Regions from separate parts of the Homo sapiens genome. Here region 2 is linked to region 1. The links come from fine-mapping of genetic effects on gene expression. Tissue or cell type: whole blood. Region 1 holds a variant in brackets; the other region holds the start of a gene. All regions are shown on one strand. Distances are from middle to middle.

Region 1 (2,835 bases):
GGGGTGGCAGCTGCTCCCATTCACAGCTCTGAAGTGACATGTGCCCTAGTCTGGAAGAGGCTCCCAGTGTCAAGGGGACTCTGCCCTGCTCAGGACAACAGCAGCCTTTCCCGTTTGGGAGCCTCAAACATCCCACTACTCCTGGGCAGGAGCAGAAAGGTGGCTCGAGGTGCGGTCCTGTGGCCATTTCTCACTTGGATAAACCCTGCACTGTCCATCTGTGACCCCTTAGGATCCTGCGGATGTCCATGCCACACGGCCCAGGTCCCTGCGCCCCTGCAGTTGCCTACTGCCTGTCCTCCCCTCCCACATGGCACCCGGGCTGTAGGCCCCACGCCAGGCCTCCTCCCTGAGGCTGCAGCCCCAGGCACGTGGGGGGCACTGTCCTCACGCAGCAGGCACTGGTCATGTTCCATTGTCAGCTGCCTCCACCTGCACAGACTCCTGTCTGTGGAGACCAGAAGCTTCTGGAACCACCTGCCCTGGTCCCAAATGTGCAGTGTGAGATGTGCACACACTCAGGGCCCCGTGACCTGGAAGCCGCAGTCGTGTCCCCAGCACCTTGGGAATGAGCCTGTCCTCTGTGTGAAGGAGGGGGTGGTTCTCAAACCACTGACTCTTGGTGCTCAGGAGGGGCCTGCTGCTGTCCTGGGCATGGGGTGGTCATTGTTCAAGACTGAGGCAGACTCAGTCTTTGAAAGGGTGCAGAGGCCAGGCGCGGTGGCTCACGCCTGTAATTCCAGCACTTTGGGAGGCCAAGGCGGACAGATCACGAGGTCAGGAGTTCGAGACCAGCTTGGCCAATACGGTGAAACCGCATCTCTACTAAAAAATAACAAAAATTAGTCGGGCATGGTGATGTGTGCTTGTAGTCCCAGCTACTCAGGAGGCTGAGGCAGAAGAATCACCTGAATCTGGGAGGCAGAGGTTGCAGTGAACCAAGATCGCACGACTGTACACCAGCCTGGGCGACAGAGTGAGACTCCGTCTCAAAAAAAAAAAAAAAAAAAGGTGCAGAAACCACTGCCCCGGGCAGCCATCCCCAGTACAAGGCACTGCCCACCCAGTACGAGGCACTGCCCATCAGTCCAGGGCCAGCAGCGGGGCCAGGGCAGCCTGAGGCCTGTCTGGTTAGCCTCTCACCTGGGGTCTGGACAGAGTGAGGAGCCCTGTCCAGCAGCCGCTGCGCGGCCTGAGGGTCACCCTCAGGCTCAGGCAGTTTCAGGCCCCGTGTCACTCTCCAGGCCACTGAAAGGACTTGGTGGGGTGGCTTCTTCCGAGGAAGCTCCTGGAAGATGTTTTTCCTGAGGTTTCCTCTAATACAGGGTTCACACGGCCTGGGGCTCTGGCCACCCCACCAGGTGTTGTCCCCCAGACCACTGGGGACAGTGGCTGCCCCGAGTGGCCCTGCCCCTGCTGAGAGCCACAGCCTTTGGGGGTACAGGGTGGGGCTGTGGGGGAGCTGGGTGGGCTCCCAAATCCATATCCTGGTCTCCCCAGGTACATCCAGACACTGAAGGACCACAGGCCCC[G/A]GATGGTGTGGGACAGCCAGGCCTCAGAGCACTTCTTCGAGTACAAGAAGTGAGTGTTTTGAAGTGCGTGGCCCACCTTGGCCTTGTGTGCAGGGAGGGGCCCTGGGGGTGGAGATGAGGGAGCAGCAGGGCCCAGGGGGTCTCAGGGTCACGAGCTCACTTGCTGCTCCCGGCCCTGGAGCACAGCTGGACAGCAGGTGGCCACCTGGTGGGTGGGAGGAGTACAGGCCGTGGACCTTGGCTGTGAGGGGAGGAGGCCTGGAACCAGCAGAGCGGATGGGCTGACAGTCCCTTTGTCTTGCAGGAGCCGCAGTGGGAGGCACGTCGTCTTCTACCCAACCCTGAAGGTGCGTGTGCTGCCAGCCGTGGGACCGGGGGAGGGGTGGGCCATGCGACAGCACAGCAGGCACTGGCCTGGGGTCCAGGCGGTGCTGCCCCTCGGCCTGGAGGACATCCCTGGGTGTTGGGGGGACAGGCCCCAGCAGGTGCTCACACCTCCATCTGTGCCCAGTCCCTGCAGGTGCGGCTGGAGCTGGCCCGGGAGCTGGGCGTTGGGGTCTCTATCTGGGAGCTGGGCCAGGGCCTGGACTACTTCTACGACCTGCTCTAGGTGGGCATTGCGGCCTCCGCGGTGGACGTGTTCTTTTCTAAGCCATGGAGTGAGTGAGCAGGTGTGAAATACAGGCCTCCACTCCGTTTGCTGTGACGGGTCTGCTGCAGTCCTCAGTCGGGGGTCCTGGGCACCATGTGACTCCCCATCCTCCCATGAGGGGTCCCTGCCCTGGATGAGTCCTAGCTGGGGGACACCCTGAGAGCTCGAGCCCCTCCCACCCGGGCATCCGCTGGCTGCCTCCTGTCAGCTGGGCAGGCGGGGCCCACAGTACCTGCCCCACCAGGACAGCCTGGCTCAGGCCTTTCTGGGCTGCTTCTCACATCCTGGGCTGGATGTGGGTTTGGAAGCTCTGGAACCATCCCGGACTCGCCCACTCCTGGATTCGAGGGCCCTCGCAGGGACAGCTCTGCCCAGCATCACCCCAGGGCCTGGCAGTGATAGAGCTGAGAGCTCCACCCCCACATACCTGCCACCCACCTGGCCAGCCACAGCACGTGTGTCACCTGCAGAGAGCCACCCAGACGTCCCCACCGAGTCCAGCACGGCAAGGGTGCAGGGGCTGCCCTAGAAATGGGCTCAGAGGAGCCTGGCCCACCCTCTTGAAACTGGTCCTGGACCTTGGCTCAGCTCTGCCGCCTCAGGTAGCACGACCCCCAGGCCAGCCTGGACACATCAGGGAGCATGGTGAGG
Region 2 (2,629 bases), 40 kb before region 1:
ATTAAAGGCGGCGGCTGCCCGATCGATTCTGCAATTCTTTAGCGCCAAAGACCTCTGACCTCAATGAGATCCTAAAATGGCTAAGTGCCTTTCCTAAGAGAAGTTGGATGTTGCCATGGCCTCCTTAGCATTGGGAGGACTGCGCATATGTCCCTGAGGACACCTGCCATAGCTTACTGGGACCCTCTCCAGAGCTCTGCCGACTTGAGGTCTTCACCCCCAAAGGTCAGGCTTCAGGCCACCATCCAGGCCGTTTGCTGAGAGCGAGTGCTAAGCTGAGTAAGAGCCCACAGCTGGTGGGGGACGTGCCTCGCACCGCATGCAGCCCCCAGCCCCTTCTAGGAAAGGCGTGGGCGTCAGCTGGCAGAAAATACCGGGAAGGGAAAGAAGGAAACGTGACTAGAAAGAAAGACAAAGCTTAGTTTAAGGAGAAAGCTCCCAAGCAGCAGAAATGGAGAAGCAGCTGTGCAGGGTGTCTTGGAGCCCACGCGCGCCCCGGGAACGGCTGAGCGGGGCAGGGTGGGGCCCGGCCGTGCGGTTTTCTGTAGGAAACTGCGCTGGGAACGGCTAGGGCTGGGGGTGGGGGTCGGACAGCCTGTGCCGCGTAGAATGCGCGGTGACTCAAAAGTGCTGGCCACGCGCTCGTTCATCCAAGCGCGAGGGGCTGAGTTGGGAACTTGGTTTGCCTCCTGGGGCTCCGGCTCGTGCAATGTGCAAGGCGGGGGTGCGGACCGAGAGAGCGCGCGTTTCGGGCAGTCCCCGCTGGAGACAGCGCAGTGGGCGCCATCGGCCTGGGGATGGAGATGGTCCACTCAGGCGGGGGTCGGGGGGACGCCAGGAGTGGTGACTCCGGGTCCCCGGGGGAGCGTGCCGGGGCGGAGCCCACCGCGCGGTTCTCCCGGCACCGCCGAGCCGGGCAGAGGCCCTGGAGCCCAAGGCCCCGCGCGGCCCCACGCCAAGGGCGCCAGGCCTGCCTAAGAGCCGTGGCGCTGGGAACCCGGCTACCCCTGGGCCGGGAACCTGATAACCAGCTCCAGCGCGAGCACCAGGGGCGCTCAAGGTGAACGCGCCGGGCCCGGGGTCCGCCCCCGGCGCGGCCCCGCCCCGGCCCCGGCCCCGGCCCCGGCCCCGACTTTCGGGCAGCCCTGCCCAGTCCCCTGTCCTGGCCCAGCCCCTCTCCATCCCAGCGTGCCGTGCGCGGCGGCGGCGCGCGGGCGCCTGGGGCGGGACTTCCGGCGCGCTGGAGCGTTTTCCGGCCGTGCGTTTGTGGCCGTCCGGCCTCCCTGACATGCAGGTGAGCCCCGCGGCGGCCGGCCCCTGCTCCTCCTCCTTGCACGGCCTCAGTTTCCCTCCCGCAAAGTGGGCGCGCCGGGCAGCGAGGCTCGGCCCCGGGAGGACGGGCGTGGGGTCGCGGGCGACGCCGGGCGGGTGCGTGAGAGAGAGCAAGTGTGTGAGGGGGCGTGTGAGAGGGTGTGAGGACGAGGGTGAGAGAGGGTTGCTATGAGAGCGAGGGTGAGCGAGAGCGGGGGTGGAGGGCGAGTGTGGACGGGGGCGCGTGTCGGGGGGACCGCGAGTGGGAGGTGGAGCGCGTGCGCTGGGGCGAGCAAGCCTGAGAGCTAGGCGCGCTGGGTGGAAGGGGCCTGAGTGCGCAGACAAGGGATGTGGCCGGCGGGTGAGGAGTGTGTGAGCGCGCGGCTCGTGTGGCAGAGTGGTGGCCATCGGGTCCCCAGGACCCCCAGAGGGAGCAGAGGCAGTAGGGCTCCAGGCGGGCTGCCCTCCCAGTGAGGGGCACGCGGTCCCCGTGAAGGGTGGGCGCATCAGACGCGATCCCACCCACCCTTGGTTCAGCCCCAACCCTTGAAGCTTCCATTGCTGACTGTCCAAACTGGAGGGTGACCCGCCCGCCCGTCCGCCTCGACTTCCTGGGCTCTAGTAATCTCTTAGCCTCCTAGCTACTTGGGACTACAGGTGTGCGCCAGCGCACTCAGCTAAGAATTTTTTTTTTTTTTTGAGACAGAGTCTCACGCTGTCACCCAGGCTGGAGTGCAGTGGCGCGATCTCGGTTCACTGCAACCTCCGCTTCTGGGCTTAAGGGATTTTCCTGCCTCAGTCTCCCGAGTTGCTGGGAGTACAGGCGCACACCACTGCACCCAGCTAATTTTTGTATCTTTTTTAGAGACTGGGTTTCATCACGTTGGCCAGGCTGGTCTTGAACTCCTGATGGGGTGATCTGCCCGGCAGAAAAATATTTTTTGTAGAGACCAGGTCTGGCTGTGTTGCCAAAACCAGTCAAAAACTCCTGGCCTCCCAAAGTGCTAGGATCACAGGCCAGAGCCGCCATGCACCAGTTAGTTCTTCAAAACACAACAGAACAGGAGTTGTCAGTGCGTCCATCGCAGAATAGAGTTAGCTCTGATTGGCTGCTGTCGCTCTACACATGTACACACATGCACAACACATGTGCACACATGACATACACGTGTGCTGGGCTGTGACGTAAAGTGCATTTCTTACTGCTGGTCTCCATGAAAAGCATTGGAAAGCCCCTGCTGTGACTCCCATCATTTCCATCAACACCACCGAGGAGGTCCTGGACCTACGGACTGGGAGCGCAGGAAAGTGGGAGCAG

The links. PIP is the estimated chance that this variant, and not a neighbour inherited with it, causes the effect.
Region 2: it holds the start of CHID1, and the variant in region 1 is fine-mapped to the expression of CHID1 in whole blood (INTERVAL, PIP above 0.99).

What each region holds. Positions count from the first base shown.
Region 1 is chr11:869,165-871,999 of GRCh38, reverse strand. CHID1 (chitinase domain containing 1) reads left to right here. Exons shown (of 13, transcript NM_023947.4): 11 at 1,501-1,581; 12 at 1,837-1,879; 13 at 2,044-2,835. The coding sequence ends at 2,142. Among named protein-coding and RNA genes, the nearest start is that of TSPAN4, 28 kb to the right of the region's middle. RefSeq lists an enhancer at 631-1,393. The variant G/A (reference allele first, on the strand shown) is at 1,533.
Region 2 is chr11:909,440-912,068 of GRCh38, reverse strand. CHID1 (chitinase domain containing 1) reads left to right here and starts at 1,259. Exons shown (of 13, transcript NM_023947.4): 1 at 1,259-1,294. RefSeq lists a silencer at 737-1,576.